Linked DNA regions of Homo sapiens: all the other regions are linked to region 1. The links come from fine-mapping of genetic effects on gene expression. A gene starts in region 1. Each other region holds a variant in brackets. All regions are shown on one strand. Distances are from middle to middle.

Region 1 (4,000 bases):
TCCCCCTTACTATGCTCATTTTTTTTTCTTTCTGTCATGGCACTTTTCAATTTTTAATATCAACAATGTATTCATGCTTATTATTCATTGTTTGTCTTCCCTATGTATAGTGTAAACCTCATGAAGAATTCATTTTGTTCCCTGATTTATCCCAAGCATGCTTAGAATAGTGCCCAGTACATAGTAAGCGATTGATTAACACTTATTGAATGAATAGAGAACTACATGAACGAATAAAATAGATTAATATCCTACTCTCAAGTAGAAGAGACGGCAACCTTCCTTTCTTAAATCCTCTTTCTCAGTCTCCTATTTATACCTCAAAGGACTAACTGGGCTGGGAGGAGGAAGGGATTCTTTGGTAAGGAGGAATAGATAAATACAGCTGGAAAGGTTTTTATTTGAATATTTTAGGGTTTCATTTCTTTGGGTTTTTTCTTTTTTAATTGGCAAGTAAAAATTTATATATTTATGGTGTGAAACCTGATGTTTTGATATATATACACATTGTGGAATGGCTAAATCAAGCTATTTAACATATTCATTACCTTACATTCTTATTTTTGATGGTGAGAATAAAAGATTGTAGATTTTAAGAAACTTTCTATCTTCTTAGTTTGGAGGACTGTGAAATCTTGTGCTGTTGGGAGATTTTAGGGCTTTTGTATTCTCTTTATCACTCTGATTTTTGGTTCGGTAGTGCTTCAATTTGGAAAGTATCTTCTAAACTAAATGAACTAGAGGAGCCAGGAATCAGTACTCAAAAAAGCAGAGGAGAAAGCAAGCTGCTACAAGAAACTCAAGGGAAACAAGAAAAGAGAACTTCAGGGTTTCAGCCCAATTCACTAAATAGGAAAGAGGGCTAAGATTCAAGATCAGTGTTGGAACTAGTAACAAATATTACATTTCATGATAGAGGTGCAAAAATAATGAACCACAGGTATATTCATGATCTAATGTTATGTAACCTATTACCCCCAAATTTTAGTGGTTTAAGACAAGAGTAAGCATTTATTATATCTTATGGTTTCTGTGATTCAGGAATCCAGAAGCAGCTTGATTGGATAGCTCTGGGTCGGGGCTATCATGAAATTCAGTCAGATGTTGGCTGAAGCTACAGTCATCTGAAGGCTTGACTTGGTTGCAGGGTCTGTTCCCAAGATAGATCACTCACATAACTAGCAAGTTGTTGCTATTAGCAGGAGGCCTCAGTTCTTCCCACACAGAGCTAAGATTCAAGACTTCTATGCAAGTCAAGAAATACACACACACACACACACACACACACACACACACACACATAGTGAAGTCTGAATATAAATTAGGAACTGAGCTCTTCTTCTCTCTCCATAGGTATATACATATACATACATATACCTATATACACATAGATATCCTGGAGAATTATTTAGAGAGAGCAATATTTCTACATCAGCTCCCTAGGCCAAGTAAGGTGACCCAATGGACTTCACTTTTCTAAAAAGTGCAGTTATACTTATGTATCTTCTCTTACTATTCATCAAAATACCGACAATATTTTGGGCTGAAATGTTAATAATATCTGTATGAACCTCTGCTTCAAAAAATAATCCAAGGGATCCTTGAGTATTTTTAAAACATGGCATCTGGTTTCCCCAAAATGAGCAACATAAGAAAGCAAAGAATACAAAAGAACAAGGCAGAAGCCATAGTGTATGTCTTTATGATGTAGTTTTCTGCTGTACAGTACTGATCACATGGTCAGCTGTGATTCATTTTGGAAGGGGAGTATGAACAGGTGTGAATACCAGTAGGTAAGGATTCCTAGAGATGTTATCAACATCTCAGCCCGAAATATTGTCGATATTTTGGTGAATATTAAGAGAAGATACATAAGTGTAACTGGACTTTTTAGAAAAGTGAAGTCCATTGGGTCACCTTACTTGGCCTAGGGAGCTGATGTAAAAATACTACTCTCTTTAAATAATCCCCCAGGATATCTATATATATACACACACACACACGGAGAGGAAGTGCTCAGTTCCTAATTTATATTCAGACTTCACTATATATATGTGTGTGTGTGTGTGTATTTCTTGAGTTGTATAGAATACGTACTTATGAATAACAAACTTGACCAATTTTCCTACAGACATAGACTTCTTGCATTTAGCAGTATCACTCACCTCTTACTCCATCATTTCTTCAATAACTCCATCAACACTGAACCTTCTAACTCTAACATGCTACGATTCACTACTGTGAAAAAAAAGCTGATGTCATAAACACATTGTGTTCCAGTATCACTAAGGGCCATACCCCATTCTTAGGTAATCCCTGAGGTCCTACTAGCCTTGCTAGCCTCAAAGGAGTCACTTGGAGTATAAAGAGGGGGAGGAGACTGAACAAAGTCCTGGAGCTATAGTATATTTTTTCATTGTTAATCCTTGGCAAAGAAGTAGGTAGTTTGGAGGTGGAAGTAGGCCATGATTACCTTTAAAATAATCTACTATTATTTGTGTCTTTCCTGAATATCATAGCACCTTCTTGTCACAAATGCTTAGGGGAAAGAAAATCATCCAATATACCCCATATCCCACTTACCAACATCTCTACAGTAAAATGAGACCCAAGAGCATGATTTCCTTAACTAGCTATCAAGCAACTACCTCCAACAAACAGCAGTTATCATTAATATGTTCATGCTATTTTCATTTGTGAGGTCTGTAATCCATCAGAACAACCTGACAGTGATTAAGTAAAATCAAAGAGACTTTGTAAACATCTGTGTGCTTTTATTGTTACAAATGCTTCATTATAAAAAGATCAGTCAAAAGCATAAAAGTACCCTGGTTTAAACTTTTTCTGTGTTTGAATGAGAATGTTTCTCTTGGAACATGCTCATATCAGGCTTCCACTTGGCAAAATCACGAATTGGCTGATGTTGTTTTAGAGGCTTTCTCATGTCCCCTTCCAAACATCACTCTTCTCCTTCTGTGGACCCCTTTCTGTTATCTAGGAGCCCCTCATGCTGCCTTCCACATTCTGCCTACTGCACAGTCATGTTCTGGACCCCTCAGAATCCCCCTCTACCATTACAATATGTTTTTCCTAAGACTTACTTGCATTGAAAGGCTTGCCAGGGAAGTGACTAATCTTATCATCTTGTACTAAATGTTAAATTAATCCTCATTCTCTCTAGAATTGTTTTCTAAGCAGGGATTCCTAGAGATGCTATCAATATCTCAGCCTGAAATTGCATAGGTATTCTGGTGAATAGCAAGAGAAAATAACGTGAGTATAACTGGACCTTTTAGAAAAGTGAAGTCTATTAGGTCACCTTAGTTGGCCTAGGGAGTTGATGTAGGAATGCTCCTCTCCCTGAAATAATCTTCCAGGAGAGGAATGTATCCCCAAATAGCAAGTGAATATCCAATGGCTTCTCATTGCACTTAAACTCTATATTCCTTTTTATGACCAAAAAGGCCTGGCTTCTCCCTAACTGTCTCTTCCTTACACATTACACCTCTTCCTTTTGTATGTGAATGTGCCAAGCTACCACCTCATTTCTACCTTAAGGCCTGAAGTGTTATGTTCCAGTTCTTGGCATGCAAATTACTCTTCATCACTTGTTTCCCGACACAAATGCCACCTTTCCAGACAATCTAAAGTAACCTCAAAATCATTTGCTCGCACATCACTTTGTTTTATTTCTCCTGGTATTAATCACTATGTGAAATTTTCTGGTTCATATTATTTGTCACCTGCTTCTTCCAGGCCTCCTCTTACTTCATTGTCTATCATGTTCATTACCGTATCCCTAGTGTTTTGCACAGAATCTGGTACATATTCAGTGCTCAATAAATATGTGCTAAATGAATAAATGAATAAATTAACCTAAACATAAGTTTTACACTTAAGTAATTGAGCAAGAAGTCTTTGTTGTACTAATATTGGAAAAGGCAGGGGTGGGGGTGGTGACGTGATTATAACCAATGTAACCAGCTTGCATTTATAAGAC
Region 2 (4,000 bases), 590 kb before region 1:
GGCTTTCTTTGATAGGTAGGTAGGTTATTTATTACTGCCTCAATTTCAGAACTCATTATTGGTCTCTTCAGGGATTCAATTTCTTCCTGATTCAGTTTTGGGAGGGTGTACGTGTCCAGCAATTTATCCATCTCTTCTAGGTTTTCTAGTTTCTATGCATAGAGGTGTTTACATAGTATTCTCTGATTGTTTTTTATTATTATTATTTCTGTGATTTCTGTGTGGTCAGTAGTGATATCACCCTTATCATTTCTGATTGTGTTTATTTGATTCTTCTCTCTCTTTATTAGTTTAGCTAGTGGTCTATTTTATTAATTTTTTCTGGCCCCCCCCAAAAAAACTCCTGGATTCATTGATTTTTTTAAGGGATTTTGTGTCTCTGTCTCCTTCAGTTCATCTCTGATGTTGGCTATTTCTTGTCTTCTGCTAGTTTTGAAGTTTGTTTGCACTTAGTTCTCTAGTTCTTTTAGTTGTGATGTTATGCTGTTAACATGAGGTCTTTCTAGCTTTTTAAAATGGACATTTAGTGCTATAAATTTCCCTCTTTTAGTGCAATAAATTTCCCTCTCAACACTGTGTTAACTGTCCTAGAGACTCTGTTACATTGTATCTTTGTTCTCTTTAGTTTCAAAGAACTTCTTGGTTTCTGCCTTATTTTTATTATTTACTCAAGAATAATTCAAGAGCAGGTTGTTCAATTTCCTTGTATTAATAGTTGTGTGATTCTGAGTGAATTTCTTGTTCTTGAGTTCTAATTTGATTGTGCTGTGGTCTGAGAGGTCATGTGTTATGATTTCAGTTCTTTTGCATTGGCTGAGAAAGCTTCTGAAGCTGATAAGCAACTTTAGCAAAGTCTTAGGATACAAAATCAATGTGCAAAAATCACAAACATTCCTATACGCCAAAAACAGGCAAGCCAAGAGCCAAATCATGAATGAACTCCCATTTATAATTGCCACAAAAAGAATAAACTACCTAGGAATACAGCTAACAAAGGAAGTGAAGGATCTCTTCAAGGAGAGCTACCAACCACTGATCAAAGAAATCAGAGATAACACAAACAAATAGAAAAACATTCCATGGTCATGGATATGAAGAATCAATATCATAAAAATGGCCATACTACCCAAATCAATTTATAGAGTCAATGCTATTCTCATTAAGCTATCATTTACATTCTTCATAGAATTAGAAAAAAAGTATTTTTAAATTCATATGGAACCAAAAAAGACAATCCTAAGAAAAAAGAACAAAGCTGGAGGCATCAGGCTACCTGGCTTCAAACTATACTACAAGGATACAGTAAGCAAAACAGCATGGTACTGGCACAAAAACAGACACATAAAACAATGGAACCGAATAGAGAACAAGAAGTAAGACCACACATCTGCAACCATCTCATCTTTGACAAACCTGACAAAAACAAGCAATGAGGAATGGATTCCCTATTAAATAAATGATGTGGGGGGAAACTGGCTAGCCATATACAGAGAATTGAAACTGGACCCCTTCCCTATACCATATACAAAAATCAACTCAAGATGGATTAAAAACTTAAATGTAAAACCCAAAACTATAAAAACCCTGGAAGAAAATCTAGGCAATACCA[T/A]TGAGGACATAGGCACAGGAAAAGATTACATGACGAAGATGCTAAAAGCAATTGCAACAAAAGAAAAAATTGATAAATGGGATCTAATTAAACTAAAGAACTTCTGCACAGCAAACTATCATAAGAGTGAACAGACAACCTAGAGAATGGGAGAAAATATTTGCAATCTATCCATCTGACAAAAGTCTAACATCTAGCATCTACAAGGAACTTAAAAAAAATTTACAAGAAAAAAATGAACAACTCCATTAAAAAGTGGGCAAAGGACATGAAAAGACACCTGTCGAAAGAAGACATTTATGTGGCCAAAAAACATATGAAAAAAGCTCAACATCACTGATCATTAGAGAAATGCAAATCAAAACCACAATGAGATACCATCTCATACCAGTCAGAATGGCTATTATTAAAAATCAAAAAACAACAGATGCTGGAGAGGCTGCAGAGGAAAAGGAACACTTTTACACTGTTAGTGAGAGCGTAAAGTAGTTCAACCATTGTGGAAGACAGTGTAGTGAATACTCAAAGACCTAAACGCAGAAATACCATTTGACCCAGCAATTTCATTACTGCATGTATACCCAAAGGGACATAAATCACTCTATTATAAAGATACATGCACACATATGTTCACTGCAGTACTATTCACAATAGCAAAGATATGGGACCAAAGTAAATGTCCATCAGTGATAGACTGGATAAAGAAAATGTGATACATATACACCATGGAATATTATGCAGCCATAAAAAGGAATGAGATAATGTTCTTTGCTGGGACATAGAAAGAGTTGGAAGCCATTATCCTCATCAAACTAACACAGAAACAGAAAACTAAACATCACATGTTCTCACTTATAAGTGGGAGCTGAATGATGAAAACACATGGACACGTGAGGGGGAACAACACATACTGGGGCCTGTCCTCCAACAGGTCTGGGGTGGGAGGAGGGAGAGTATCAGGAAGACTAGCTAATGGATGCTGGGCTTAATACCTAGGTGATGAGATGATCTGTGCAGCAAACCACCACGGCACATGTTTACCCATGTAACAAATCTGCACATCCTGTACCTATAACCCTAAAACTAAAATAAAAGTTGGGAAAAGAAACTAAAATAAAAGTTGAGAAAAGAAAGAGCAAATATCAAAAGTAATCAAACATTAAAAATTCAAAATAAACATCCAAACCTACTTTGTTTTCCTAAGGAACATAGGTCTATCAGCCATGACTAAAGGAATAAAATATGTACATTGTTCAATATCATTCAATTTGGCCAAATTTTCCTCCATAATTACCAGCCAAGAACCAAATTCTGACTTTACATAAGTACTACTGACCTTCCCATAAATAACTATTTTAAGAGGTATGCAGGAGATCGGCGATAAGGGAAAACTTATTGGAGAAAGTGACATTTAACGTAAGTGCTTAATAGATGTTCCTCCTCCTCCCACACATATGTATAGACAGGACCTTGAAAGCCTAAAGACATTATTTCCAAAAGGTTATTCTAGGAACAGGTGGAGGGGTTGGGGGTATGTTGCTAAAAATTTGATTATGATCCTAAGTACTTTCCCCCTGTTTATTCTCTTCTAGAATCCTAGAATTTTAAAGCTGGAAAGGGCCACAGAGATCTCAATCTAAATTTTATGAGTGAGAAAAATCAAATCCAGAGAGTGTCAGTAATATGTTTATCTATGATCACACAGCTGGAAAAGCTGGGCCAAAACTGAAACCTGTCTTATTCTTTTTCCATAAACCCAGAACCAAGCACCAAAAAAGATCTCTAGAACTGCTTTAGGTCCAGAATGATAATTATCTTTAGAGATAACACTACTCCTCTCTATCAAGGGTAGGCTAGGCCTTTCTTTGACTATAATCTTGCTACAGTTCATTCACAGTGACATTATCATCCACTCCGAACTCTTTCCTTCCTCTGTCACTTGTCCCTAAGTTTCCTGGAAAATTAGGTTGAATAACAATGATAGGAAATAATAAATGATCAATCTTTATTAATACTGATGACTATGGTCTTCAAATTATTTTATATTTTTATATACCCTAATCGTGTTCCAGGCAGTTTAGCAAATAGCATAAGTAATGCCTTGCCCTGTAACTAACATACAGGCAATGGACAATGAAAGTATTTTCCATGTAATGTTCACATATCTTTAAACTACAGAAAAGTGCAGGATCCACTTGGATTTTGAAGCCTGACACATTATGAAAGGAGACATTTCTGTCAATCGTTTGATCTCCAAGATACTTATCTCATTAAAATCCAGGATTCTTTGATGATCATATTGGCTGAATGAAAACTTACCCATGGCACTGTTAGGGAATTATTATGAGCCAAGAATGTTATTTTTTATTTTGTCTTTAAATTTTCCTTTTT
Region 3 (4,000 bases), 150 kb before region 1:
ATGTCATGCACCATTTACAAGAATGTTTACAAAGATTATATAGCAACACAAAAAATGCTTTTGGCATACAAAGTCTTCACATAAACCAAAAGAGATCTCTTCTCTGATGATCAAATTAATTCCACAGATAATCGAGCACATTACTACTATACATCAGGTATGAAAATAGTTTTAAAATTGTTCCCTAACCATTTTCATCTCTGACAATTTTCACATGCACCTTTCTCCCTGTAAGATAATATTATTTAGGTCACAACCTTCACACACGTGTTATCTTAATTGAATCCTTATAAAATCCAAAGAGGTAAATAATATTATTAGTTCACTGGAGTAACTATTAATATTATTATGAGTGGTGTGTCTCAGGACATTAGATATATTTAATTGTGTTTTGAGGATCCCATTTGTCCAAGTCAACCAAGTCACCAAATTTTGCTAGCCACGGTGACTAAATAGCTCTTTCCTAGCAAAAGAAAACATAAAATTCTCATTATTGAGTTACTGTCTAGGCCAGCACTGTCCAATAAAAATACAAAGCAAACCCTTGGATAGCATTTCTGAAACTGCTCTCGGCCAGAGGAGTGCCTACTACCCTAAAGAGTGAGTCCAAGGCCAGGCAGCATTCACAATAAGCTGACTAAAAAGCCCTTGGGCCTTAGGGGGAACATTGGTAGTAATCTGCCAGTACTCCTCATGGCCTGGAGTGGTGGTGGGTATGGGATAAGACTCCTCTGCCTTTGGAAAGGGGAGGGAAAAATGGAAAGTACAATAGAACATCAGATGGCCTTTTAAGGTTTTTGACTCTAGTTCCTGGCTCCCAAACAACACCTATGGACCCTCCTGGGTCCTGGAGAAAATCACAATCCTGCAGGGAAGGACGCAGGCCTGGCTGACTTTGCCACCTGCTGACTGTAGAGCCCTATGGCACTGAGCAAACATAGGCCATAGCCAGGGAGTAGTTAAGCAGGCCTTGGGCAAGACCCAGTGCTGTGCTGGCTTCAGGTCTGACCCAGGACATTCCTAGCGGTAGTAGCCAAAGGGTGCTTATGTCACTCCACCCCCATCTCCAGTTGACTCAGAACAAAGATATAAACTCTGTTTGTTTGGGAGAAAGTAAGGGAAGAGAACAAGAGTCTGCCTGGTAATCCAAAGAATTCTCCCAGTGCTTGTCCAAGAACATCAAGGTGGCACCTCTACACGTCTGCAAGAACCACAGTGTTACTGGACTTTGGGTACCCCCTAAAACAAATACAGCTTAGATCACAACACTTACGTCTTTTAGAATACCTGGAAAGCCCTCCCAAGAAAGACTGGTACAAGAAAGCCCACACTGAGAAGACTAGAATAAATACTTAACTCTTCAATGCCCAGACACAGATGAACATCTGCAAGAATGAAGACAATCCATGAAAACACAACATCACCAAATGAACTAAATAACGCATCAGGGACCAGTCCTGGAGAAACAGATATGCGACCTTTCAGACAAAGAATTCAAAAGCTGTTTTGAGGAAATGCAATGAAATTCAAGATAACGCAGAGAAGGAATTCAAAATGCTATCAGAAAAAATTTAACAAAGAGATTGAAATAATTAAAAAGAATCAAGCAGAAATTCTGGAGCTGAAAAGTGCAATTGACATACTGAAGGATGCATCACAGTCTTTTAATAACAGAAATGATCAAGCAGAAGAATGAATTAGTGAGCTTGAAGACAGGCTATTTGAAAATACATAGAAGAGACAAAAGAAAACAGAATTTTTT[T/A]AAAAAAATGAAGCACACCTGCGATATCTAGAAAATAGCTTCAAGAGGGCAAATCTAATAGTTATTGGCTTTAAAGAGAAGGTAGAGAAAGGAATAGGAGTAGAAAGTTTATTCAAAGGGAAAATGACAGAGAACTTCCCAAACCTGGAGAAAGATATCAATATTCAAGGACAAGAAGGTTATAGAACATCAAGCAGATTTAACCCAAAGAAGTCTGTCTCAAGGCATTTAACAATCAAATTCCCAAAGATCAAGGATTAATAAAAAAAGATCCTGGCTGGGCACGGTGGCTCACGCCTGTAATCCCAGTACTTTGGAAGGCCGAGGCAGGCGGATCACAAGGTCAGGAGATCGAGACCATCTTGGCTAACACGGTGAAACCCCGTCTCTACTAAAAATACAAAAATTAGCTGGGCGCGGTGGCAGGCGCCTGTAGTCCCAGCTACTCGGGAGGCTGAGGCAGGAGAATGGCGTGAACCTGGGAGGCGGAGCTTGCAGTGAGCCGAGATTGTGCCACTGCACTCCAGCCTGGGCTAAAGAGCGGGACTCTGTCTCAAAAAAAAAAAAAAAAAAAAAAAGATCCTAAAAGCAACAACAGAAAAGAAACAAATAACGTACAATGGAGCTCCAATATGTCGGGCAGCAGATTTTTCAGTGGAAATCTTACAGGCCAGGAAAGAGTGCATGATATATTTAAAGCAATAAAGGAAAAAATTTTTACCCTAGAATAGTATATATCTGGTGAAAATATCCTTCAAACATAAAGGAGAAATAAAGACTTCCCCAGACAAACAAAAGCTGAGGGATTTCATCAATACTAGACTCATCCTGCAAGAAATGTTAAAGGGAGTACTTCACTTAGAAAGAAAGGAATGTTAATTAGTAATAAGAAATCATCTGAAGTTACAAAACTCACTGGTAATAGTAAGTACACAGAAAAACACAGAATATTACAACACTGTAACTGTGGTGTGTAAACTACTGTTATCCTAAGTAGAAAGCCTAAACAATGAACCAAACAAAAACAATAACAACTTTTTGAGACATAGCACAATAAGATATAAATAGAAACAAGAGGCCGGGCGCAGTGGCTCATGCCTGTAATCCCAGCACTTTGAGAGGCCAAGGCAGGAGGTTTATGAGGTCAGGAAATCAAGATCATCCTGGCTAACATGGTGAAATCCCATCTCTACTAAAAGCACAAAAAATTAGCTGGGCATGGTGGCATGCACCTGTAGTCCTAGCTACTCGGGAGGCTGAGGCAGGAGAATCACTTGAACCTGGAAGGTGGAGGTTGCAGTGAACCGAGATTGCACCACTGCACTCCAGCCTGGGCGACAGAGTGAGACTCTGTCTCAAAAAAAAAAAAAAAAAAAAAAGCAAGAAAGAAGAAAAAGGTAAAAAGCAGGAGGACAAAGCTAAGGCATAGAGTCTTTATTTGTTTTCTTTTTGCTTGTTTGTTTATGAAACAGTGTTGGTATCAGCTTAAAATATGAGTTATAAGATAGTATTTGCAAGCCTCATGGTAACCTCAAACCAGAAAACATACAATGGATACACAAAAAATAAGCAAGAAATTAAATCACATCACCAGAGAAAATCGCCTTCATTAAAAGGAAGGAAAGGGAAGAAAAGACCACAAAACAAGCAGAAAACATAGAACAAAATGACAGAAGTCCTTATTTATTAATAATAACGTTGAATGTAAATGGACTAAACTCTTCAGTCAAAATATACTGACTGAATGGATGGGAAAAAAAAGAAGTAATAACCTGTTGCCTACAAAAAATACACACATAAACTGAAAATAAAGGGATGGGAAAAGATATCCCATGCTATTGGAAACCAAAAGACAGCAGGAGTCACTATGCTTGTATCAGACAAAATAGATTTCAAGACAAAAACTATATGAAGAGACAAAGGTCTCTGTATAATGATAAAGGAGTCAATTCAGCTAGAGAATATAACAATTTTAAATATATATGCACCCAACACTGGAGCACCCAGATACATAAAGCAAATATTATTACAGCTAAAGAAAGAGAGAGGCCCCAGTACAATATACAATAATAGCTGGAAACTTTAACACCTCACTTTCAGCCTTGGACAGATATTCTAGACAGAAAATCAACAAAGAAACATCATACTTCATCTGCACTATAGACCAAATGGATCTAATAGATATTTACAGAACATTTTATCCAAGAGCTACAGAATACACATTTTTTGTTCATCAGC
Region 4 (4,000 bases), 200 kb before region 1:
TGATAGAGGGGATATCACCACCGATTCCACAGAAATACAAACTATTGTTAGAGAATACTGTAAACACCTCTACACAAATAAACTAGAAAATCCAGAAGAAATGGATAAATTCCTGGACACATACAACCTCCCAAGACTAAACCAAGAAGAAGTTAAGTCCCTTAATAGACCAATAACAAGTTCGGAAGTTGAGGCAATAATTAATAGCCTACCAACCAAAAAAAGCCCAAGACCAGATAGATTCACAGCCAAATTCTACCAGAGGTACAAAGAAGAGCTGGTACCATTCCTTCTGAAATTCTTCCAAACTATGGAAATAGAGGGAATCCTCTGTAACTCATTTTATGAGACCAGCATCATCCTAATACCAAAACCTGGCAGTGACACAACAGAAAAAGAAAATTTCAGGCCAGTATCCTGATGAACATCGATGTGAAAATCCTCAATAAAATACTGGCAAACCAAATCCGGCAGCACATCAAAAAGCTTATCCACAACAATCAAGTCGGCTTTATCCCTGGGATGTAAGGCTGGTTCAACATATGCAAATCAATAAACATAAACCATCACATAAATGGAACCAATGACAAAAAGCACACGATTATCTTAATAGATGCAGAAAAGGCCTTCAACAAAATTCAACAGCCCTTCATGCTAAAAACTCTCAATAAACTAGGTATTGATGGAACGTATCTCAAAATAAGAGCTATTTACGACAAACCCACAGGCAATATCATACTGAATGGGCAAAAGCTGGAAGCATTCCCTTTGAAAACCAGCACAAGACAAGGATGCCCTCTCTTACCACTCCTATTCAACATAGTATTAGAAGTTCTGGCCAGGGCAATCAGGCAAGAGAAAGAAATAAAGGGTATTCAAATAGGAAGAGAAGAAGTCAAATTGTCTCTGCTTGTAGATGACATGATTGTATATTTAGAAAACCCTATCGCCTCAGCCCAAAATCTCCTTAAGCTGATAAGCAACTTCAGGAAAGTCTCAGGATACAAAATCAATGTGCAAAAATAACAAGCATGCCTATACACCAATAACAGACAAACAGAGAGCCCAATCGTGAGTGAACTCCAATTCACAATTGCTGCTAAGAGAATAAAATACCTAGGAATCCAACTTACAAAGGATGTGAAGGACCTCTTCAAAGAGAACTACAAACCACTGCTCAAGGAAACAAGAGAGGACACAAACAAATGGAAGAACATTCCATGCTCATGGATAGGAAGAATCAATATCATGAAAATGGCCATACTGCCCAAAGTAATTTATAGATTCAATGCCATCCCCATCAAGCTACCATTGACTTTCTTCACAGAATTAGAAAAAAACTAACTCAAATTTCATATGGAACCAAAAAAGAGCCCATATAGCCAAGACAATCCTAAACAAAAAGAACAAAGCTGGAGGCATCACGCTACCTGACTTCAAACTATACTACAAGGCTACAGTAACCAAAACAGCATGGTACTGGTACCAGAACAGATATATGGACCAATGGAACAGAACAGAGGTCTCAGAAATAATGCCACACATCTACAACCATCTGATCTTTGACAAACCTGACAAAAACAAGCAATGGGGAAAGGATTCCCTATTTAATAAATGATGTTGAGAAAACTGGCTAGCCATATGCAGAAAAGTGAAATTTGACCCCTTCTTTATACCTTATACGAAAATTAACTCAAGATGGATTAAAGTCTTAAATGTAATACCTAAGACCATAAAAATCCTAGAAGAAAACCTAGGCAATACCATTCA[G/A]GACATAGGCATGGGCAAAGGCTTCATGACTAAAACACCAAAAGCAATGCCAACAAAAGCCAAAATTGACAAATGAGATCTAATCAAACTAAAGAGTTTCTGCACAGCAAAAGAAACTATCATCAGCGTGAACACACAACCTACAGAATGGGAGAAAATTTTTGCAATCTATCCATCTGACAAAGGGCTAATATCCAGAATCTACAAGAAACTTACACAAATTTAGAAGAAAAACAACAAATAACCCCATCAAAAAGTGGGTGAAGGATATGAACAGACACTTCTCAGAAAAAGACATTTATGTGGCCTACAAACATATGAAAAAAAGCTCATTGTCGCTGGTCATTAGAGAAATGCAAATTAAAACCACAATGAGATACCATTTCACACTGGATAGAATGGTGATCATTAAAAAGTCAGGAAACACAGATGCTAGAGAGGATGTGGAGAAATAAGAATGTTTTTACACTGTTGGTGGGAGTGTAAATTAGTTCAACCATTGTGGAAGACAGTGTGGTGATTCCTCAAGAATCTAGAATCAGAAATACCAATTTGACCCAGCAATCCTATTACTGGGTATATACCCAAAGGATTACAACTCATTCTACTATAAAGACACATGCACACATATGTTTATTGCAGCACTATTCACAACAGCAAAGACTTGGAACCAACCCAAATGCCCATCAATGATAGACTAGATAAAGAAAATGTGGCACATATATACCATGGAATGCAGCCATAAAAAAGAATGAGTTCATGTCTTTTGCAGGGACATGGATGAAGCTGGAAACCATCATTCTCAGCAAACTAACACAGGAACAGAAAACCAAACACCACATGTTCTCACTCATAAGTGGGAGTTGAACAGTGAGAACACATGGACACAGGGAGGGGAACATCACACACTGGGGCCTGTCGGGGGCTGGGGGGCTAGGGGAGGGATAGCATTAGGAGAAATACCTAATGTAGATGATGGGTTGATGGGTGCAGCAAACCACCATGGCACATGTATACCTATGTAACAAACCTGCACGTTTTGCACATGTATCCCAGAACTTAAAGTATAATAATAATAATATTCACTACACAGGTACTGTCACTTAATAGGTACTTGTTGAATGTTAATGCCTTTCCTTACAGACCAAAGAAGTTCTGAAAGATGGTGCTATATGAAAATAAAATAGGGGGATGAAAATAAAAGGTGATTGATCCAACTATGCATCCATAAGAAAGAATGAAATCACATCCTTTGCAGCAACATGGATGCAGCTGGAGGCCATTATCCTAAGTGAATAAACGCACAAAATACCACATCTTCGCTTATAAATGGACGCTTAACAATGAGTCCACATGGACATAAAGATGGGAACAATAGACACTGGAGACTCTAAAAGATGGGGGCAAGGTTTGATAAATAACCTGTTGGGTCCTGTGCTCACTACAGGAAGTCCATGAGTCCTTCTCACATAGCCTATTGTTTAGTACCCTGAATATATAACTGGGTATGTGTTTTCTGGGTGAGTACACCTACAGAATGTATTGGGTAATGAGTTCAATAGAGGCCTAAAGCCCAGAATTAGTCAATATATCCATGTAACAAACCTGCACGTGTACTCCTTGAATCTAATTTTTTTTAAAAAAGAAAGGTGATTGATTCAGAAGAGACAGGGTCTTGTTGTTTCTAGTGCTACCCTGTTAGAACAGAGTGAGTGTTCAAAAAGAGAGAAAGGCAACAGAGAAAGGGCCAGAAAATGGCCCTACAATACTTCAGTCCAGATAGCAAAGAGAATAATATTTAGAGAGTTTTGGTTGAATAAATGAAAATAATACAAATATATTTAATTGTTTATTATTTAAAATAATTTAGAATAATTATTTTTAAAATTATTGATATTTCAGGAAATAGCCTGAACTATGAAGCAAACATTTGCACCTCAAAATATACCCAATGGTATCACTTCCCAAAACACAATGCTACTACAGATGGTCATTGATAATTATGTAGGGCAGGAGTCTCCCAATGCCTCTTTAAGAATCATGCCCAAGGCAGCTTCAGCCCAAGGTTGTTTCAGAACTTATTCTCTTGATTGTCTAGTAGCTTTTGCCACTTCAGTTAACATCCTACATGACATACATACATACATATATACTTGCAATACACACAAGCATACATTTTCCAGGATTCCTCAGCTCACATTTTTCACCTGTTCCTACCTCTCAATGCTCT
Region 5 (4,000 bases), 230 kb before region 1:
CGTCAGATTTTTGTATTACACCCCAAATTTATAATGAGTCTGAGCATCACTGGGACATGGTTAGACGCCATCTACAGGGAAGAGAAGATAATCTCACTTTAGACATTTCCAAATTAAAAGAACAAATTTTCGAAGCATCAAAAGCCCATTTAAATTTGGTGCCAGGAACTGAGGCAATTGCAGGAGTTGCTGATGGCCTCGCAAATCTTAACCCTGTCACTTGGGTTAAGACCATTGGAAGTACTACAATTATAAATCTCATATTAATCCTTGTGTGCCTGTTTTGTCTGTTGTTAGTCTGCAGGTGTACCCAACAGCTCCGAAGAGACAGCGACCATCGAGAACGGGCCATGATGACGATGGCGGTTTTGTCGAAAAGAAAAGGGGGAAATGTGGGGAAAAGCAAGAGAGATCAGATTGTTACTGTGTCTGTGTAGAAAGAAGTAGACATAGGAGACTCCATTTTGTTATGTACTAAGAAAAATTCTTCTGCCTTGAGATTCTGTTAATCTATAACCTTACCCCCAACCCCGTGCTCTCTGAAACGTGTGCTGTGTCAACTCAGAGTTAAATGGATTAAGGGCGGTGCAAGATGTGCTTTGTTAAACAGATGCTTGAAGGCAGCATGCTCCTTAAGAGTCATCACCACTCCCTAATCTCAAGTACCCAGGGACACAAAAACTGCGGAAGGCCGCAGGGACCTCTGCCTAGGAAAGCCAGGTATTGTCCAAGGTTTCTCCCCATGTGATAGTCTGAAATATGGCCTCGTGGGAAGGGAAAGACCTGACCATCCCCCAGCCCGACACCCGTAAAGGGTCTGTGCTGAGGAGGATTAGTAAAAGAGGAAGGAATGCCTCTTGCAGTTGAGACAAGAGGAAGGCATCTGTCTCCTGCCTGTCCCTGGGCAATGGAATGTCTCGGTATAAAACCCGATTGTATGCTCCATCTACTGAGATAGGGAAAAACTGCCTTAGGGCTGGAGGTGGGACCTGCGGGCAGCAATACTGCTTTGTAAAGCATTGAGATGTTTATGTGTATGCATATCTAAAAGCACAGCACTTAATCCTTTACATTGTCTATGATGCAAAGACCTTTGTTCACGTGTTTGTCTGCTGACCCTCTCCCCACAATTGTCTTGTGACCCTGACACATCCCCCTCTTCGAGAAACACCCACAAATGATGAATAAATACTAAGGGAACTCAGAGGCTGGCGGGATCCTCCATATGCTGAACGCTGGTTCCCCGGTTCCCCTTATTTCTTTCTCTATACTTTGTCTCTGTGTCTTTTTCTTTTCCAAATCTCTCGTCCCACCTTACGAGAAACACCCACAGGTGTGTAGGGGCAACCCACCCCTACAATGGAAGATGAAATGAATGAAATGAAGCGAGAAGGGAAGTTTAGAGAAAAAAGAATAAAAAGAAATGAGCAAAGCCTCCAAGAAATATGGGACTATGTGAAAAGACCAAATCTACGTCTGATTGGTGTACCTGAAAGTGACGGGGAGAATGGAACCAAGTTGGAAAATACTCTGCAGGATATTATCCAGGAGAACTTCCCCAATCTAGCAAGGCAGGCCAACATTCAGATTCAGGAAATACGGAGAACGCCACAGAGATACTCCTCGAGAACAGCAACTCCAAGACACATAATTGTCAGATTCACCAAAGTTGAAATGAAGGAAAAAATGTTAAGGGCAGCCAGAGAGAAAGGTCGGGTTACCCTCAAAGGGAAGCCCATCAGACTAACAGCAGATCTCTCAGCAGAAACCCTACAAGCCAGGAGAGAGTGGGGGCCAATATTCAACATTCTTAAAGAAAAGAATTGTCAACCCAGAATTTCATATCCAGCCAAACTAAGCTTCATAAGCGAAGGAGAAATAAAATACTTTACAGACAAGCAAATGCTGAGAGATTTTGTCACCACCAGGCCTGCCCTAAAAGAGCTCCTGAAGGAAGCACTAAACATGGAAAGGAACTACC[G/A]GTACCAGCCGCTGCAAAATCATGCCAAAATGTAAAGACCATCTAGACTAGGAAGAAACTGCATGAACTAACGAGCAAAATAACCAGCTAACATCATAATGACAGGATCTAATTCACACATAACAATATTAACTTTACATGTAAATGGACTAAATGCTCCAATGGAAAGACACAGACTGGCAAATTGGATAAAGAGTCAAGACCCATCAGTGTGCTGTATTCAGGAAACCCATCTCACGTGCAGAGACACACATAGGCTCAAAATAAAAGGATGGAGGAAGATCTACCAAGCAAATGGAAAACAAAAAAAGGCAGGGGTTGCAATCCTAGTCTCTGATAAAACAGACTTCAAACCAACAAAGATCAAAAGAGACAAAGAAGGCCATTACATAATGGTAAAGGGATCAATTCAACAAGAAGAGCTAACTATCCTAAATATATATGCACCCAATACAGGAGCACCCAGATTCATAAAGCAAGTCCTGAGTGACCTACAAAGAGACTTAGACTCCCACACATTAATAATGGGAGACTTTAACACCCCACTGTCAACATTAGACAGATCAATGAGACAGAAAGTCAACAAGGATACCCAGGAATTGAACTCAGCTCTGCACCAAGCGGACCTAATAGACATCTACAGAACTCTCCACCCCAAATCAACAGAATATACATTTTTTTCAGCACCACACCACACCTATTCCAAAATTGACCACATACTTGGAAGTAAAGCTCTCCTCAGCAAATGTAAAAGAACAGAGATTATAACAAACTATCTCTCATACCACAGTGCAATCAAACTAGAACTCAGGATTAAGAATCTCACTCAAAACCACTCAACTACATGGAAACTGAACAACCTGCTCCTGAATGACTACTGGGTACATAATGAAATGAAGGCAGAAATAAAGATGTTCTTTGAAACCAATGAGAACAAAGACACAACATACCAGAATCTCTGGGACACATTCAAAGCAGCGTGTAGAGGGAAATACATAGCACTAAATGCCCACAAGAGAAAGCAGGAAAGATCCAAAATTGACACCCTAACATCACAATTAAAAGAACTAGAAAAGCAAGAGCAAACACATTCAAAAGCTAGCAGAAGGCAAGAAATAACTAAAATCAGAGCAGAACTGAAGGAAACAGAGACACAAAAAACCCTTCAAAAAATTAATGAATCCAGGAGCTGGTTTTTTGAAAGGATCAACAAAATTGATAGACCGCTAGCAAGACTAATAAAGAAAAAAAGAGAGAAGAATCAAATAGACACAATAAAAAATGATAAAGGGGATATCGCCACCAATCCCACAGAAATACAAACTACCATCAGAGAATACTACAAATATCTCTACGCAAATAAACTAGAAAATCTAGAAGAAATGGATAAATTCCTCGACACATACACTCTCCCAAGACTAAACCAGGAAGAAGTTGAATCTCTGAATAGACCAATAACAGGCTCTGAAATTGTGGCAATAATCAATAGCTTACCGACCAAAAAGAATCCAGGACCAGATGGATTCACAGCCAAATTCTACCAGAGGTATAAGGATGAGCTGCTACCATTCCTTCTGAAATTATTCCAATCAATAGAAAAAGAGGGACTCCTCCCTAACTCATTTTATGAAGCCAGCATCATTCTGATACCAAAGCCGGGCAGAGACACCACCAAAAAAGAGAATTTTAGACCAATATCCTTGATGAACATTGATGCAAAAATCCTCAATAAAATACTGGCAAAACGAATCCAGCAGCACATCCAAAAGCTTATCCACCATGATCAAATCGGCTTCATCCCTGGGATGCAAGGCTGGTTCAATATACGCAAATCAATAAATGTAATCCAGCATATAAACAGAACCAAAGACAAAAACCACATGATTATCTCAATAGATGCAGAAAAAGCCTTTGACAAAATTCAACAACCCCTCATGCTAAAAACTCTCAATAAATTAGGCATTGATGGGACGTATTTCAAAATAATAAGAGCTATCTATGACAAACCCACAGCCAATA
Region 6 (4,000 bases), 210 kb before region 1:
AGACTTTAAGTGTGAGCGACTGGCCAGAGAAGGAGAGATCAGAGAGTCAGGAGGAAACCCAGGAGAGTGTGGTATCTTGGAAGCAGAAGAGGAAAGTTTAAAAAAGTAGAGTGGCTGAGCATGCTAAATGCTGCTGAGAGAGAGTAAGGTGAGGAAAAGAATTCTGTAATGGAAGAGCAAGATACAAGTCTGTGGAAATGATAAAAAACTGTTTCATGAAGTAATGCAGATACAACTCCAGTTGGAGTGGGTTAATGAGAGAATAGGAGAAAAGTGGAGTCAATGCCTATAAACAATTCTTTTGAGTTTTAGCGTGATGAAAGGGTTAATTGATCATTTTTTTTAAATAAATTTCAGGCGGCTGTATTAAGGCATATTTACATGTAGGCAAGAGAGAGAGGGGATAATTGCAAGAGCAAAGTCTTTGAAGAGGCAATGCTGATAGAGGTACTATGAGCCTTGGAAAGGATGAGGTCAACCCTTCCCTGTAACAGAAGAGGAAGTGAAACGAGCCACTGGCTTTGGTGGGCCTCAGCTTCTTTGGAACACAAGGCTGTTGAAGAATGTGTCCTATGGGTTAACACCAATAACACTCCAGTTCTCCCAAGCTTACCCCCATTGTTAGCACAGTTAAGCTTTCTTTAATATCAGGCTCTTAAAAAGAAGTGTAAATGTGGAGTGAATGAACCAAAAAGAAAAGACAAAAATGCCATCATCCACCCAATTGAAATCCAAGGCCTGTTTATCCACTCACCCCTGAATACTGAGTGCACCCCAGATCTTAGGATCTGGGAGTGTTTCCCTCTGCTGAGATGCACTTTTAGTGGATGCAAAACCAACAGTTCCTCCTGGGCCATGACTCAGCAGAGTTATCCCAGTAATACCTTGTCTGGGAGAATGGAAATGGCATAGTACAATATCCTATATTGAACCTTTCCTCTTTCTTTTACTTCTGTCCATTCAAGCAGAAGCAGCACTCAGTGGTACTTCTCTCCTTGGGCTACTTTATATCAGAAGTGGAGTGTTTTTCCTCATTAGCTTATTTATCTCATAAACCTTGTGAGAAAGATGAGGGCTTTATTTTAGGCCTAATTACTTTATTCCAAGTGAGAAGACAAGGTATATGAATAAAAACATAACTCAGATCATACTGAGCAAAAAACATTATTTTGACCCATGATACATTTTGAGGCAGAATGATTCAGACTTCTGATGGCACAAAAAAGACTTGACCTCTACTTTGTTTTAAGGTAGGAAAAAACCATCTGCTGATACATTTTTTACCTTTTTATTTCAACCCCTGAGATTAAAAAATTACAAATGGAAATTTACAAAATAGCCTCTACAAAAGTTTCTATTACCTACCTTTCTACCTTATATGATCATATATGATTAAGTAACAAAATCTATATGAAGGAATTTTGAAACTGTAAAATGCTATCTAAGTGTGAGAACAAACAGCAGCATCTAAGTAGGTAAAATTAAAGTACATGAGAGTCAATAAATGGGTTTTGAGAAAAGAGGCAGGAAAGTACATGTATGATCATATTTTCTTATACATTTATTTAATCGACAAACAATAATTGTGTATATTTATGGGTTGCAATGTGATGTTTTGCTCTATGTATATATACATTGTAGAAAGATTAAGTTAAGCTAATTAACATATCCATCACCTTGCTATGGTGATCACCGTTAATAATAATGTATTGCATATTTTAAAATTGCTAATAGAATGGACTTTTAACATTCTCACCACATATATAATAATCTTTTATTTGAAGATTGGGGATCCAAGTAATGTTGGAAGTCACCGAGTAAAAGTACTTATTTATATACCTCAGGGGCAATGAGATTGCACAAAGGAAGAGAAATTCTTGAAGCCAGTGCTGCTGAAATTTTTGTTTGCACATGAATCACCTGAGAATCTTCTGAAGGTGCAGATTCTGATTCAATAAGTCTGGGATGGGACTTGAGATGCTGAATTTCCAACTCCCAGGTCCTACTCATGCTGCTGGTCTACAGACCACACTTTGAGTAGCAAGAATCAACTCTATGGGGCTGACTAAGGAGAGAGCCGGCTGTCGGAAAAAGAAGACTGAATAATACACACATAGTGTCATGAAAGCTGGAGAGTGAAGGTGTTTATTGGAGAGAGAGATTTGAACAAGACTCATGTGTCAAAGTCACAAACTGAGCTGAAAGGAAGGAAAGAAGACAAGATGTGTCAGGTGAGCTGGGGTGATAAAGCATCAGTAGCTGCATGATGTTTTTCCTGGGAAATTCATTTACAACTCCAAAAAGAGGGAACCCTTTCAGGAAGGAGAAACAGACAGTTGAAAGAAGAATCCAAAAAAAGCTTCAGTCA[G/T]CAATTATTCTTTACCAAACAAATATTTCGCTATTCCTAGATTTTAAAAGAATCACATATTTCTCAATGGATAGACTGTCATGAAAGATTCTTAGCACTTAATACTCAGACTATGACTTACCAAAGTCCTCTTCCTCAGAGGGAGTATCTGCTGGTTTTTCTAGGAAAAAGCACAAAAGGCAAAAAAAATATTTGTAGGGGCTGATGACTCTGAGGTTCTATACACATCTCTCCTTATCCTAAAAAATCTTAGTCTTTAGACTAACACACAAAATAACATAAGGCAGTTGGACTGGTTGAAGTAATTCTTTATACACAAAGCTGCCAATAATGAGCATTTATTCTTAAGAAGTTACCAAAAAAATAATTCATGAAGGTGCTGGAGGTAAGAGGTTTGGGGATGATGAAATAAAGCTGTTAATTCTTCCATTTGCATCTATGACTTGTATAATGTAGGTGATATGTAGAGACTTGAAAAATTCATTACTAAGAAATGAGGCATTTTGTTTACTTTCATTTTCTGTTCCTGCTTTAAACTTCAGAAGACACATTAGTCATGAAAAACTTAATATGCATTAAATACCTTTTATTACATGCAGAATAGCCAGTGTAGCCTAGGGAAAAGAGATATATTTTGAATTCAGCAGTCCCACCTTAATCACACTACGTGTGGCCTTTAGCTTTAACAGAAACTCCCATGTGATAACTATGAATGACTCTATTCAATTTGGAAGGTACAAATTATGGTAATTTTGGGGAATGGGGAGGTGGCACGTGCCATAATGAACAATAACAGCATCCTAATGCTTCAAGTGTCACATATGTTAAACAAAAACACTAATGCTTTCTATGAACACCCCATTCTCTGGTGCTTTATCAGACTTGCCAACTCATTAATTAGAGCTATTGAAAAGAATTCCGTCTATAGACCTCATGGGCAGAGATTACAATGCTTGGTTTCCCCATTGATTTTTCATCAATCGGACTAACAGTAGCAAATCATTGAGAGTCAGAGTTGGGGTAAAGATTCCAGGGAAAGCGAACATTTGTAAATTGTGTTCCTTTGGGAAAAATAATAATAACGATAATTAAAATAGTAACCAACTTTTGAACACTTACTATGCACCAGGTGCCATGTTTCATTTATGTTATCTCATTTAATATTCACAACAAGCCTTGCAGTAGTTACAATAATCGGTTCACTTCTAAAAATGAGAATCCAAGGTTCCCAGAGGCAACGTGAACTTTTGGGTCTAATCTTTGTTTAAAGTCACACTGCTAGTAAGTGGGGAACCTGGAATTCAAACTTAGGTCTGTGTGCTCCAGAGTCCATTTGTAATCAATATAACTACTAGCCTCCAGTAATGTCAAATGTATGAGAAAAATAAAGATTACTCATAACATTTTCAGGATATTCCCCACCACCACACACACACCTTTAAAACTAGCAATGCTGACCCACATTCATTAGGATGGTAAGCATTATTAGGGACATACAGGTTTCACACTTACCATTTAAAAAGCTAAATGAAGTGCCCAAAATATAAAATGGCCATCCCTTGCTGATTTTCTTAAAATAGTATGTACGTGCAAGGATTGGCACCTGAGAGGTAGAATAAAATGAATAAAATG
Region 7 (4,000 bases), 140 kb before region 1:
ATGTACCTCATAAATATATACACCTGCTATGTACCCACAAAAATTAAAATGAAAAATTAAAAATGTATATATATTGCATGCCAGGTATGCAAGTTTTAATTTTTTAGTAGCTGCATTAAAAAGGTAAAAAGAAACAGATGAAATTAATTTTAATAATGCCTTTTACTCAACCCAATATATTCAGATTATCATTTCAACATGTAATCAATATAAATTCATTTATTTGAGATAAAAATGAGATATTTTGAATCCTTTTTGTTTTAACCAAGTCTTTGAAGGCTGGTCTGTATTTTACATTTACAGCTCATCTCAATTCAGACTAGCCACATTTCAGGTGCTCAATAGCTTCATGTGAAAAGAGGCTACCATCTTGGACAGCACAGTTGAAGACTAACTGATTGATAAAAGAATGTTGAAAATACTTATGAAAGGTAAATGATGACATAATAAGCGTGAGCTGTAACACCATGTGCCACTTAAGAAGACAATAATACCATTTATATAATTTAGATGCAGATTTTACTAGCATTCCCAGAAAAAAAAAAGTGTAGTGAATTTCTTCTTCTTTCCTTTTGGCAATATCATTCTGAAACCAGTGTGTGTAGAACTTAGGGGAAAAAATCACTAAAATGGTACGGCGTATAATGGAATAAAAATATTATGCCATTGGGATAAGGTGTCCTGGCTTTGAGACAAAAAGTAGAGTCAGACTGAGCACAGTGGCTTATGCCTGTAATTCCAGCCTTCTGGGAGGTGAGGCAGAAGGATTGCTTGAGACCAACGGGAGACATAGCAAGACGCTGTCTGAACGATAAGTAAATATTATCTGGGCATGGTGGTGTATGCCTGTAGTCCTAGCTACTCAGGAAGCTGAGGTGGGAGGATCATTTAAGCCCAGGAATTCGAGGTTACAGTGAGCTATAATCACACCACTGCACTCCAGCCTGGGCGACAGAGAGAGACCTTGTGAAGAAAAAAAAAAAAAAAAAAAAAAAAGTAGAGTCAACGTATCCTGACTCCCATAATAAAAAATTGCAGTTCAAAGGGAGGAGGGCTTCACGGATGACTTGCATATTTCCTAAGCTCCTAAAACATTCTTTAGAGGCAAGTATTTATCACCAACCTTTCTATTTGACAGCATATTAAAGATATTCCTACAGTTTTGGTGTTTCTGTAAGAGCAACTAAGGAATAACCCTGGAAAGATAAGAGCTTTTCATAACAACCAAGCTTTCAAACCAATCAATCCTCAAGACAATACTTTTTAAAAAAATTGAATGAAGTCTACACGTGAAGCTAAAAGCTTTGGTTTTCAAGAACCCTAGGGCTATACTTTAAAACAGCAGTAAAAAACATACTCAAAGATGGAAGAGAATGAGCACTCAAGAGAAACCAAGTGAATGTACAGTTGTGCCCTACCTTATAAATGTTCCTCACGTACTGCCACAGCTAAAATTAGGTCCCCACGTTTGAAATAATCCTTCCACAAAAGGTAGTTTATGTTGTATGAGCTCTTCTGTAACATAACGGTAGAATTTATAGTCTAGTGAGGACTACTACAGCCAAGTAAATAGGCATCTAAATTATTATATAGT[G/A]TGAAGACTACCAAGATAGGGAAGGTATAATGGAAGCACGCAGGAGGGGCCATAACCCAGACGTGAGGGGGAGGGAATGTTACTGGCGTCAGCTTCCTGAAGAAAGTGAAGTCTAAGCTAAACCTACACCATGAGTAGGTGTTAGCCTAGTGAAAGGAATTTGAAGCAGAGGAAATGGAATGTCCAAGGCCAGAGAGAAGCGTGACCTGGCATGGCATGTCGAAAAACTGAGATAAGTATGGTGGGAGGGTTGGGAGGGGCTGTCCAGGTGGAGAGATGTGGGTAAGGAGTTAAATAAGAGTGCCATCCTGCCATCCCTTTTAAGCTACGAGTATGGACTTGTTCTCTAGAACAATGGATAGCTACCAGAGGCATCTGAGTAACTGTTTCTGCTTTGACTCCCTACCTTTGGTGGGTTTCTAACTCCTCAATTACATGAAAATTCTAAAACTAAAGCATTTTGCAAGTATTTTGGGGGTAAATGAAAAAGCTAACAAAACACAACTATCTTCAAATATAATGCAGAGAGGGAAAAATAGAGGGCTCAGACAAATTTATTCCCTGGACTTGGAAAGTTAGTATTTTCTCAGTGATTCGTTGAAGATCTATTTTTTAACCTTTTTTTTACGGCCTGGCTGTGTTTCTTTGGAGTTTCATAAAATTAATGGCTTGTAACATCTCATTACTGGGCAAGTCTAAGGGCACCTTTCTCATCATTGCTTGAATTTCTGCCTTGAAGGGAATCCCCAGGATGGGAATTTTCCTGCGAGATGGATTGCTGTTTCATTTGAAGCCTTCCTTTCAACAAGGAAAAATTTCAAATCCCTCTCCATCTAATACATAAGCTTGTGTGCATGAAAACACACACACACACACACACACACACGTACACACACACACACCCATGAATTAAATCAGAACCAGGACAAAAGAAAAGGAGGGAGGAATGACATAAGCAGCTTCCAAAGCACTGCCTCTACCTGATCATAGCCTTTTATCTCAATCATGGCAGGGGGAAAGCCCATGCCCTCAATCAAGCAAAAGATCTCAAGAGAATGCGGGCAGAGCTCATGTCTCTTCTCCAAATATGATTTTTTTTCTATTTTTCCTTTGCTAATGTGTTCAAAGTATTTCCTCTCTCTGGCATTCCACTGCCCTCTATTTCTTAATTTTCTTCTACTGACTCCAGACTGGCAGCTTTTTCTTAGCTCAGTCTCTAAACCCTTTGTGTAGTTTCTTATGGGCATTTACTCTTATTCTACCTATGCCTAGAGAAGATCAAATAAGCTAGTTTGTATCCTCTGTCCAAAACTTCTGCACATTCCTAAGGACCATGAACAAGGAACCACTAAGGCTTTTTTTTCTCTGATCTATATTTATAATGCCACTTCCTGGTTATTTTTATTTTCCAGACCCATAATCTGTTTTGTGGCAAGCCATGGAAGGAACTCTCAGGTTTCTCATGTCTCTCTAAGCAGGATTTGGCAATACTAGATATTGTATTTTAGTAGGATTTTGGCTAGTGTTCAGGACAATAGGCAGAGCATATCCCCCTGGGTTTAAAAAAAAAAAAAAAACTACTGGGGCCTGGGTGTTTATTCTTCTTCTCTCAAGCCACTGGGAATAGAGCTTTCAAACAAGACCAAAGAAAAATATGAGAATAAAAAGGCTTCATGGAAAAAATAAGGTATCTTTAGGGTGAGTCATGCAGGGGAAAGTGTGCCGAGCACCTGTCAGTAGTACCTTTCTGATTCAGTCATGAGTATCAACTTAATTCTTTCTTTTGAGAAGAAAGCCAAGGTATTTTGAAATGCATAGCTGTTTAGATGTGGTACCCATTCTGCAAAGTTAATAACATCTTTGAGGGTTCATTAATCTCAACAAGCCTGAAAAAAAATAAATTTTCATGTTCTTGCTCTCCTACTATCATTCTTACAGTTCTTTTACATAAATAATTGGTTATGGTTCAAATTAAAATAACTTTGACAATTATTAAGCAAGCTAGGAGTGTTTTGAGCTTGCGCTGTGAAGTGAGATATCAGCGCCCCAGGGTGCCTCAAGACCATGTGTTATCTTATGATAACATTCAACTCACTTTTTTCTAGGCTTATAAAATACAAGTTTTTCATTTAGCAGCTGAAATGACTGTGCTCTCTTTAGATAATATTCCCTCACTGAAAGGTTAGTCTCAATAGAATTTTTATGATTAAAGCACAAATGTGGTATTTATGAGGACTAGGATTTGTGTTTCTGGCAACCCGAGTGTCCTCAAAAGCATTGCAGCCCTGTCCTCATTTCACAAGTCCTATAATGTTTTGCAGACCACCGTGTCCTCTATACTTAAATCCTTCTCATAGACTAACAAGTGGCAAGCCTTCACTCTTACACATATTATAATCTTTGTGG

Evidence for each region. PIP is the estimated chance that this variant, and not a neighbour inherited with it, causes the effect.
Region 2: its variant is fine-mapped to the expression of SLC44A5 in whole blood (TOPMed, PIP above 0.99).
Region 3: its variant is fine-mapped to the expression of SLC44A5 in whole blood (INTERVAL, PIP 0.95).
Region 4: its variant is fine-mapped to the expression of SLC44A5 in whole blood (TOPMed, PIP above 0.99).
Region 5: its variant is fine-mapped to the expression of SLC44A5 in whole blood (TOPMed, PIP above 0.99). The same link has a PIP of 0.9 or more in blood mononuclear cells, ileum, lung, lymphoblastoid cells and skeletal muscle.
Region 6: its variant is fine-mapped to the expression of SLC44A5 in whole blood (TOPMed, PIP above 0.99). The same link has a PIP of 0.9 or more in skeletal muscle.
Region 7: its variant is fine-mapped to the expression of SLC44A5 in whole blood (TOPMed, PIP above 0.99).

The regions. Positions count from the first base shown.
Region 1 is chr1:75,608,875-75,612,874 of GRCh38, forward strand. It overlaps SLC44A5 (solute carrier family 44 member 5), which reads right to left and starts at 2,240. Exons shown (of 24, transcript NM_001130058.2): 1 at 2,166-2,240.
Region 2 is chr1:75,015,346-75,019,345 of GRCh38, forward strand. No RefSeq gene overlaps it. Among named protein-coding and RNA genes, the nearest start is that of LHX8-AS1, 120 kb to the right of the region's middle. The variant T/A (reference allele first, on the strand shown) is at 1,610.
Region 3 is chr1:75,461,103-75,465,102 of GRCh38, forward strand. The region is part of intron 2 of SLC44A5 (solute carrier family 44 member 5); the gene reads right to left. Among named protein-coding and RNA genes, the nearest start is that of SLC44A5, 150 kb to the right of the region's middle. The variant T/A (reference allele first, on the strand shown) is at 1,763.
Region 4 is chr1:75,406,017-75,410,016 of GRCh38, forward strand. All of the region lies in intron 2 of SLC44A5 (solute carrier family 44 member 5), which reads right to left. Among named protein-coding and RNA genes, the nearest start is that of SLC44A5, 200 kb to the right of the region's middle. The variant G/A (reference allele first, on the strand shown) is at 1,771.
Region 5 is chr1:75,382,100-75,386,099 of GRCh38, forward strand. The region is part of intron 3 of SLC44A5 (solute carrier family 44 member 5); the gene reads right to left. Among named protein-coding and RNA genes, the nearest start is that of SLC44A5, 230 kb to the right of the region's middle. The variant G/A (reference allele first, on the strand shown) is at 1,982.
Region 6 is chr1:75,394,094-75,398,093 of GRCh38, forward strand. SLC44A5 (solute carrier family 44 member 5) reads right to left here. Exons shown (of 24, transcript NM_001130058.2): 3 at 2,490-2,528. Among named protein-coding and RNA genes, the nearest start is that of SLC44A5, 220 kb to the right of the region's middle. The variant G/T (reference allele first, on the strand shown) is at 2,369.
Region 7 is chr1:75,468,929-75,472,928 of GRCh38, forward strand. All of the region lies in intron 2 of SLC44A5 (solute carrier family 44 member 5), which reads right to left. Among named protein-coding and RNA genes, the nearest start is that of SLC44A5, 140 kb to the right of the region's middle. The variant G/A (reference allele first, on the strand shown) is at 1,595.